Regions from separate parts of the Homo sapiens genome. Here region 2 is linked to region 1. A link means that fine-mapping ties the variant in region 1 to the expression of a gene that starts in the linked region. Tissue or cell type: whole blood. Region 1 holds a variant in brackets; the other region holds the start of a gene. All regions are shown on one strand. Distances are from middle to middle. Region 1 overlaps KAT2B (lysine acetyltransferase 2B). Region 2 holds the start of SGO1-AS1 (SGO1 antisense RNA 1).

The links. PIP is the estimated chance that this variant, and not a neighbour inherited with it, causes the effect. A credible set is the group of variants that fine-mapping cannot tell apart.
Region 2: SGO1-AS1 starts here. The variant in region 1 is the best candidate, but not a certain one, in a credible set for the expression of SGO1-AS1 in whole blood (TOPMed, PIP 0.90).

The regions. Positions count from the first base shown.
Region 1 is chr3:20,143,229-20,148,765 of GRCh38, reverse strand. It overlaps KAT2B (lysine acetyltransferase 2B), which reads right to left. Exons shown (of 18, transcript NM_003884.5): 14 at 2,336-2,450; 15 at 767-803; 16 at 460-523; 17 at 279-363. Among named protein-coding and RNA genes, the nearest start is that of MIR3135A, 8.4 kb to the right of the region's middle. The variant C/T (reference allele first, on the strand shown) is at 3,178.
Region 2 is chr3:20,172,011-20,177,010 of GRCh38, reverse strand. It overlaps SGO1-AS1 (SGO1 antisense RNA 1), which reads right to left and starts at 2,725. Exons shown (of 4, transcript NR_132785.1): 1 at 2,486-2,725; 2 at 2,193-2,276. It overlaps SGO1 (shugoshin 1), which reads left to right. Exons shown (of 8, transcript NM_001199251.3): 5 at 352-410; 6 at 1,956-2,762.

The sequences.
Region 1 (5,537 bases):
CTTTCAAATCTAGTGCTGTCTGCAGTTACCGTGGATTTTCTGCGTCTAGTGTCGTTAAGCTCATGTGGGCTCTAAACGACAGCTGCAGAATGTCTCTAATGAACACAGCCACCCACTTCTCTGCCATCACTGACCCGCCACGGTGCATGGAATCCCACCACCCGTCATACACTTCCTACCCTAAGCAGAGGAGTACAAATCAACCTCAGCAACCATTTGTCCCCCACACCGCCATCCAGAGTTTTAAATCTATACTTAGAAAATGTTAATGGTATTACCCATGGGGAACCTTATAACTTCATAATATCCTGGAGCTTCTGTTCTCTTCACAGGTTCCATGAAGGGCCAAGCGCTTTGATGGCTCTTGGGTAAAGAAAAAAGTAAGGTATCTAATATGGAAATTCCATGTGGGAAATCATTTCAAAATATTTGCATGAGGTGAATAAAGAGGACACCCACCTTCACCTGCTGGAGGATGCTCTTGAGCGTGCTGTAAAGCTGGTCAGGGTCTCTGGGCTCTTTACTTGAAAGGAAAAAGGGAAACAAGGAGCAATGATTAGAGTTTTACCCTATTGCCAGCTGATTACTATTCAGCTCATTCTTACAAAAACCTGAAATTGGAACCATTCCAGAATGTTTTAGGAAACTCAAAACCCACCAACTGTTGTGTTAGTGATTACAATTAGTTTGCCGTTTTTCTTTAAGTTGCTTGGTGGGGAAAAAAAAAAATCACTTCCATTAACATCCTCTTGCCCGTCATACTTACCTTTTCTCTTTTCCACTCGGTTTCCAGCCTGTCTCTCCTATACGTCAACAAAGTGAAACACTGAATGAGAAGTGCTTTTGGTCAAGAGAATAACATAGTTAATACTTATCAAAAACAAGAAATTATAGGCATGACAATAAAAGTCTACTTCTGAGAGACGACTGAAATTAATGGCAATTAGTTACTTCCTTATACCACTAACAATATAAAACATTTCCAAGACTAACAACGCTGCCCCATATGTTAGTGTTTTAAAGCAGGAACACCAACCTTTCAGTGGAGAGCATAAAAAATAAATATGTACAGTACTGTGGGCCTGTGTATTTTTTAAACTGAAAGTCAAATTTTGGGCTGATCACCCTGTAAAAGAGTTAAGCTGTTATTTTAGGTCAGAACAAACTCTGTCCTGGTCTCTGTTCTATTTGGCTAAGGCCCTGCTTGTAATGCAAGAAAGTTTAGTGTAGCAGATAGAAAACAGCCTGGAGTCTGACAGATCTGGATGTGATTTCCTGTTCTTTCCTTAAAAGGTAACTCACCCTAAATAAGAGTAAGTTGCCTCTCAGTTTATCAATCTATAAAACAGAACCCTAAAAATTAGGTGGTTTTATCCCTGTTGAGAGTAGTTAATGTACAAAAAAAAAAACAAAAACAGATAAATGCGTGGCACAAGTAGGCATTCAATGATATGGTTGCTATTATGTCATTAATAGAGATAATACATGGAAGTAGAATTTCTGGATTTAGCATAAAAGTAAGATCTGCCAGAGGGCACATGTAATAAAGTGATATATCTTGTCCAAATAACATCTTATTTTTTCTGGAAAATTTTTGCTTGTTTGATTTTGTTTATTAAAGCTTAAATATACTAAAAAGAACCTGGATTTGAACTGAACAAAATTGCCAATGATATTCAATGGCTTTTGACCTATAAAAACAACTATTTGGTATGGTTTAACCCAACACAACTCAACTCTAACATACAGACAAGAACCCTTAGGAAAACTACTGTAAAATAGGGAATATGAAACAAGGTATATGATTTCCACCACACATAACAAATAGTATTTTTTAGAAGTTTGGGGAGACTAGTCAAGCACAGATCTTGGAGGCTGCAACCATGGTGGCAATGAGACATGGTGCAAACAGTAAGGTGTTCGGCCATCAGAACTGGGCTGCTTCTAATTCTGACCGTTACTGGCTATGTGCCCTTTAACAGTAAATGATCTAACTGCTTTGGAACTCGATTTCCCCATTTATAAAATAGGATTCCCTGCTTTCAAGGTTGCATATGTGTAATAATTCGCACTGTGCTACAAATGGCAGACTCATTAAGTGGTGGATATTAACAGCTATTACAAGGGGGCATCTAAGCTCCCTTTGGTTTGTTTGTATTGGGTGGTAGGGAAGACATAAAAGGGTAACATTTGCTGCCTTCTTAAAAGACTAGAGATAACACAGAGACGGGCAGGGCAATAAAGCTTTCGAAGTTACTGCATTCTGGAAATTGTTTCAAACACAAACCACGGCATTACTAAAAAATTTCGCTTTTAAAAGAAGGTCTATACGTACTAATTCCAGGAATGCTTTCTATAGGAATCTGTCGAACTCCATCTTTAAAACATGAAAGTCCAGGGTAAACTTTTCGAATTTGTGCCTGTTTTCTTTCAATCAGTTTTTTAATTATCTGTAAAGCACAGGAAGGAAATGTGTTTAGGGAAAGAAGTCTATGGATACAGTTCAAGTCAGTCAACCTAATGAAATGTTTTCCTAACAAAACAGTCTTTTTTATGAAATAAGATGGGAGAAAGGGGTGAATGCTATTTAACAAGTAAGAAATGAACAGATTATATTATACCATGTCTATTTAGTGACATTCACAAAAACATCTTTGAGTTACTTGTCCCTGACATCCAGAAAAGCCAATATTGAGAAAACACACAGCCCCTAGGGCCCACTTGTCATCTGTAGCATAAGAGCCAATTATTTTGCCCTGCTTCTCTGAGGAGGCTCTGCCAGAATTACAGGAAAGCAGCCCTGAGCATTCACTACTCAGTCAAGTGACAGAACCTCTTCACTTCCCATAACTAGGAACTGTTCCCTTCGGACTAGAGAAGCAGGTAAACGGGCCCCAGAAAGTCCCAAAAGCCTACAGTTGTTAAAGCTTTACTATTTAAATTTTTCAAGGCTGGACCTCCAACCTATTCTGGCTGCATCAAAAAAGCAGCTCTATAATAGTAGGCTGTCATGAGAAGAAAGAAAAGAATAATGCAATTTAAAGTATCATCTATTAAAGCAACACAACCATGACATAAGCCATCACACTGACTGAGAAATTTTGAGAGATGTTTTGTTTGTTTTGTAAAATAATTATTAATATGCTGAGGTAACTACTTCCAAGACAGTGAGGTTAT[C/T]CCTTTAATAAAAAAAAAAAAAAAAAAAAAAAAACTAAAAAAATCCCATCCGGAAATTAAACATATCATAACGAAATTTTGGAAAAACGAAACAAAACAATAGAAATCACTAATTGCATTCACAAAGGAAAACAAAAAAATCTACTTCCTGATTGATTTCAAACATATAGCTGGTAAATACTGCAGCATGAATATGTAATCCTAACAGTTAAACAAATAACTTCATAAAATGAATGGGACTAGTAAAAGTATATTCCTAGTAAATCTAGATCAGTGCTGTCCAATAGAGACATAATACAAGCCACGCATGTAATTTAAATTTTTCTACTAGCCGCATTTTTAAAAGGCAAAAAGAAACAGGTGAAATTGATTTTAATAATGTATTTCATTTAACCCATTATATCTAAAATGTCATTGTAACATACAATTGGAAAAAAGTGTAAGATATTTTACATTGCTTTATTCATATGAACTCTTGAAAATCAGAGGATTGGCCAGGTGCAGTGGCTCACACCTGTAATCCCAGCACTTTGGGAGGCCGAGGTGGGTGGATCACTTGAGGTGAGGAGCTCGAGACCAGCCTGGCCAACACGGTGAAACCCCATTTCTACTAAAAATACAAAAAATGGGCTGGGCATGGTAGTGCACGCCTGTAATCCCAGTTACACAGGAGGCTGGGACAGGAGAATTGCTTGAACCTGGGAGGTGGAGGTTGCAGTGAACCAAGGTTGTGCCATTGCACTCCAGTCTGGGTGACAGAGCGAGACTTCCTCTTAAAAAAAAAAAAAGAAAAAGAAAGAAATGAAAATCAGAGGATTTTATACTTACAGCATGCCTTAATTTTGACTAACCACATATCAAGTCCTCAGTAGCCACATGTGGCTAGTGACTGCTACTTTTGACAAGGCTGATCTAGATGGGTGCTTTCCATTTATTTATTTTAAGTCCATTTATTTATTATAAGTCCAAATCTTAAAAAAAAAAAAGAAAAAAGAAACCTGGCTGGGCTTGGTGGCTCACGCCTGTAATCCCAGCACTTTGGGAGGCCGAGGTGGGCAGATCACGAGGTCAGGAGATCGAGACCATCCTGGCTAACACAGTGAAACCCCTTCTCTACTAAAAATTACAAAAAATTAGCTGGGCATGGTGGCGGGTGCCTGTAGTCCCAGCTACTCGGGAGGCTGAGGAAGGAGAATGGTGCGAACCCAGGAGGCAGAGCTTGCAGTGAGCCAAGATCATGCCACTGCACTCCAGCCTGGGTGACAGAGTGAGACGCTGTCTCAAAAAAAAAAAAAAAAAAAAAAAAAAAAAAGAATCCCAAGGGCAATCTCTTAAATCGACACCTTCAGAGAATATGCTGAAGACTGTTTCAATTTGAAAGTTTCCTTCTCTTCACCAAGGGACTCTCAAATGCAATGACCTACAGATGGCTTCCACTCACCTCATGTAGCACCTTAAAGATTGTGGGCTCCTGAGAAGTGACTGTTAATGGGAATGGGAGGCGTCCTAAGCTCTCTGTACCTCTAGTAATCAGTATGGAGAAGAGATCTTTTTTAATTTATTGTTTTCATTTTAGATACAGGGGGTATTATGGGTATACTGTGTGATGCTGAGGTTTGGGCTTCTAATGATCTCACTGCCCAAGTAGTGAGCACAGTACCTGACAGGTAGTTTTTCAACCCTTACTCCTCTCCCTCTCTTGCCTCTTTTGGAAACTCCAGTGTCTACTGTTCCCATCTTTGTGAGCATATATCCCCAATGTTCAGCTCCCACTTATAACAGAAAACATGCAGTATTTTGTTTTCTGTTCCTGTGTTAATCTGCTTAGGATAATGGCCCCAGCTAAACCCACACTGTTGCAAAGGACATGATTTTGTTCTTTTTTATGGCTGCATAATATTCCATGGTGTATATGTACTACATTTTCTTTATCCAATCTACCTTTGATGGGCACCTGAATTGATTTCATGTCTTTGTTATTGTGAATAGCGCTGCAATGAACATAAAAGCACATGTATCTTTTTGTAAGAACAATTTATTTTCCTTCGGGTATATGCTCAGTAATAGGATTTCTGTGTGGAATGGTAATTCTATTTTTAATTCTTTGAGAAATCTCCAAACGGCTTTCCACAGGGGCTGAACTAATTTGCATTCCCACCAAGAGTGTATAAGCATTCCCTTTTCTCCACAGCTTTGCCAACATCTGTTATTTTTTTAACTTCTTAATAATAGCCATTCTGACTGGTGTGAGATAGTATCACATTGTGGTTTTGACTTGCATCTCAGAAAGGAGATATTTTCATTGTGTTCTAGTGTATTAACTTCACCTCCCTAGAAAATATCTTCAACTCCCTACCATG
Region 2 (5,000 bases), 29 kb before region 1:
TCCTAAAGAGTTGAGTGATCAAACTACATTTTTTAAAAAACATTTAACAAATTAATTCTCATGGGCTGTTTCCGTAGTTAAATTGAGTTATATAATGTGTTTTCAGGTGGAACTCTCCAACTTGATAGGTTGGTTCTTCAAGTGGGAATTGAATGTCAGTCATAACAAATCAGTCTCCCTGTAATCAGCATAAGTGTCCTTTGGTTTCCTTTGATACAGAATAGATGTATTGATTTGAAATCGAATTATGAAATGATACTAAAGGAAAGAAAAATTATAATTTAGGAAAATACTGAATTTGTTTTTATTACATAATTGTTAAATTTCTGTTTTTCATTGGTATTTTCTAAGGCAAATTCCTCTTGAAGAAACTGAACTTCCAGGACAAGGAGAATCATTTCAAATAGAAGGTAATTCAAGTGAAAATCTAAAAATATTATTAAGGGCAAAATAAGGTCTTTGAGAACAAATAATACAATTAAATTTATCTAATTCTTTTTTTTTAACTTTTTAAATTTGTTCATCTGGTATTCTGCTCAAAGCAAATCTGTTTATTTTACACAGAGTAATAGAGTGTTAAAATATATTTATTGTGTCAAATCTGTAATCTGAATCTTTGGCTATAACTATGGCAGCAATTTACTGATTGCTACTACGTGTCAAGCTCTATGTTAGGCATTTTATGTGCATAATCTCACCTAACCCTCACAACAACCTAGGACTATAAGTACAGTTAGTCCTGTTTTATAGGAACTCAAGAAGGTAAAATATCTCACATGAAGAAGTCTAGATGTTAACAGCTAGCATTTAAAATCAAAGTTGAACTCCAAAGCCATCCCTTTCTTACTACTTTTAAATTGATATGTCCATGTTCTCAAGTGTCAATCTCCTCCACTTGAACCAAGCATTGAAGAAAGGATAGTATTTGAATAAGCAAAACCAGACGTCGAAGGAAGGATAGTATTTGAATAAGCAAAACCAGACATAGCCCCACTTTTCCTTAAAATACAAATTATATTTCTTACCTGAGAAGCTTTCTAGTTATTCAAATCTTATTTATTTTTCAAAGAACAACTTAGCTCCCACTTTCTCATTTGTCCCACTTTGGAATATGCGGTTCTACTTCTCTGAATCTGTACTCAATGATACATATAGACTATTCATTTTCTTTAAACCAAGAGCACATAAAAGCCTGTTATAATTTTTTTTTTTTTTGACAGTCTTGCTCTGTCGCCCAGGCTTGGAGAGCAGTGGTGCGATCTCAGCTCACTACAAGCTCTGCCTCCTGGGTTCACGCCATTCTCCTGCCTCAGTCTCCCGAGTAGTTGGGACTACAGGCACCCACCACCACGCCTGGCTAATTTTTTGTATTTTTTTTAGTAGAGACGGGGTTTCACTGTGTTAGCCAGGATGGTCTCGATCTCCTGACCTCGTGATCTGCCCGCCTCGGCCTCCCAAAGTGCTGGGATTACAAGCGTAAGCCACCGTGCCTGGCCTATAATGTTTTTAAAGATTATAAAGATTGAATGTCCCTTATCCAAAATGCTTGGGACCAGAAGTGTTTTGGATTTATTTTTTAAATTTTGGAGTATTTACATTATATCAGTTCATCATCCCTAATTTGAAAATCTGAAATCCAAAACCCTCCAGTTAGCATTTCCTTGGAGCATCATGACTGCACTAAAAAAGTTTTGGATTTCAGATTTTCAGATTAGGGATACTGAACCTGTACAAGATTCTTTCACATGTCAGATATAAGCCATCAGTTGATCACTGACAAGTAAATAGATGGTAATATTTAAGTTCCCAGGTTTTTATTTACAGATTTTATAATGTAGGAAAACTACAGAATGACCTTTTGGTCATTCACTTTTTTAGTTTGAATTCTAAAGTTCTTGAAATTCAAATTTCCACAAAGTAAAACTACTTTTCTCATTTATTTTTTAAATTCTCAGATCAGATACCTACTATTCCTCAAGACACACTGGGAGTTGATTTTGATTCAGGTGAAGCTAAGTCTACTGATAATGTCTTACCTAGAACTGTATCTGTTCGTAGCAGTTTAAAGAAACATTGTAACAGTATATGTCAGTTTGATAGCTTGGATGATTTTGAAACCAGTCATTTGGCAGGGAAGTCTTTTGAATTCGAAAGAGTTGGATTTTTAGACCCACTAGTAAACATGCACATACCTGAAAATGTACAACACAATGCTTGTCAATGGAGCAAGGACCAAGTTAACTTATCACCAAAGCTGATTCAGCCAGGAACGTTTACTAAAACAAAAGAAGACATTTTAGAATCTAAATCTGAACAAACTAAAAGTAAGCAAAGAGATACACAAGAAAGAAAAAGAGAAGAGAAAAGAAAAGCTAACAGGAGAAAATCAAAACGTATGTCAAAATATAAAGAGAATAAAAGCGAAAATAAAAAAACTGTTCCCCAAAAAAAAATGCACAAATCTGTCAGTTCCAATGATGCTTACAATTTTAATTTGGAAGAGGGTGTTCATCTTACTCCTTTCCGACAAAAAGTGAGCAATGACTCTAATAGAGAAGAAAACAACGAGTCTGAAGTGAGCCTCTGTGAATCAAGTGGTTCAGGAGATGATTCCGATGACCTCTATTTGCCCACTTGCAAGTACATTCAGAATCCCACGAGCAATTCAGATAGACCAGTCACCAGGCCTCTAGCTAAAAGAGCACTGAAATACACAGATGAAAAAGAGACGGAGGGTTCTAAGCCAACAAAAACTCCTACCAGTAAGTGATCTACTTGTTTACCTGTATTTTTAATGTTCGTGATAAATGATCACTCCTGATGCTTATATACTATACTTACCATCTGTTTCTCTGGTGGAGGTTGGAGACTTACCATCTGTCTCTCTTTGGTGGAAGTTATGGTCTGATTAAACAGTGGGGGGCTGGGTGTGGAAATCACAGTTGTATTGCTCTGACCTAATTCAGAGATTGCTTGTTATGGAGACAGAATTTTTATTTTCAGTAAATTAGGACTCCCAAGGGGACAGAGGGACTTTTTTGTAGACTTAGGTTGAATTGAAGTAGCTTTTATACACTTAACTGAAGTATCCCCTTGAAAGTGAAATCAAATTTGAATCCAGTGACTTGTTATTTTAATGGCCTTGTTTTATATTAAATTTGACAGGAACCGTGATTTAAAATAATCTTCTAGTTAGTGAAGATTTCCTCAATTGATAGGCTTAGTATTCTTTTGTACGACATCTCTAAAAACTGGCTCAGAAAATATTTTATTAGATCAAAAGTAGGCATAGTTCAAATGTTCGTAATACAACCTACACCTGTCCACAAAGATTCTCATTTGGCAATTTTAGTTAATACAAGTAAAACTAACATTTATAGTCAAGTTGTATCATTTTCAAAATATTGTCACATCATTTTATTTGATCCTCAGAACAATTCTGTGAAGTATAGGTGTTATGATGCTTATTTTGTTTGTAAGGAGATTAAAACCTTAAAAACCAAACCAACTTTCTAAATCGGCCAGTTAGTCAGTGGTAGCAGGCAAGTATCTTTTTTAAAAATATGCTGTAAGCCGGGCGGGTTGGCTCACGCCTGTAATCCCAGCACTTTGGGAGGCTGAGGTGGGCGGATCACCTGAGGTCAGGAGTCCAAGACCAGCCTGGCCAACATGGTGAAACCCCATCTCTACTAAAAATACAAAAAAATGAGCCAGGCCTGGTGGTATGTGCCGGTAATCCCAGCTACTCGGGAGGCTGAGGCAGGAGAAAAAGAATTGCTTGTACCCAGGAAACAGAGGTTGCAGTGAGCCGAGACCATGCCATTGCGCTCCAGCCTAGGCAACAAGAGCGAAACTCAGTCTCAAAAAAAAAAAAAGCAAAAATGCTATAATGATGTTAGAATAAATCAAACATGATTGTCAAAGTGTTGATAATTATTGGACCTGGGTAACTCAGAGTTTATTATACTGTTATTGCCATCTTTGTGTACATTTAAAAATGTCCAGAAAAAGTTGGGATTTTTTTGTTGTTGTTCACTTTTTAATTGAGACAGGGTCTTGCTCTATCACCTCGGCTGGAGGGCAGTGGCACTGTCATGGCTCACTGCAGTCTCAACCTCCCAGGCTCAAGTGATTCTTCCACCTCAGCCTCCCCAGTACTTGGGACTACAGGCATGCGCCATCACACCTGGCTAATTTTTTTTTTTTTTTTTTTTTTTTACTTTTTGTGAAGATGAGGTCTCACTGTGTTGCCAGGGTGGTCTCAAATTCCTGGGCTAAAGCAGTCCTCCTGCCTTGGCCTTACAAAGTGCTGGGATTACAGATGTGTGAGCCTGTATCCATAAAAATACATAAAATACATAAAAAATACGTTTTTAAACGAAAAAAATATACTCTAAAATGGTATTACTCAGAGTTTAATCCCTAGACGTCTTTTAAGAAATGCAGAATCTCAGGCCATACCCCATACCGTGGAGTCAGAATCTGCATCTTTTTTTTTTTTTTTTTTTTGAAACAGAGTTTCACTCTTGTTGCCCAGGCTACAGTGCAGTGGCACGATCTCAGCTCATCCCAACCTCCGCCTCCTGGGTTCAAGCGATTCTCCTGCCTCAGACTCCCGAGTAGCTGGGATTACAGGCATGTGCCACCACGCCCAGCTAATTTTGTATTTTTAGTAGAGACAGGCTTTCTCCATGTTAGTTAGGCTGGCCTCAAACTGCCAACCTCAGGTGATCCGCCCACCTCGGCCTCCCTAAGTGCTGGGATTACTGGCGTGAGCCACCGTGCCTGGCCATTAAGAAGTCCTCCTGTGGATTCATATACACATTAAAGTTTGAGAAGCATTTTTCCAGAATATAGCAACTGATCTGATATTGTTCCAAACAACATATTTCTCAAACTGAAAGTTGGAATAATTAATACAGTACAGTATATTTATGTGGGAACAAAAAGGACAGACTATAAAACCCAGATAACACTGGAGCATATGGCTCTTAGTATAC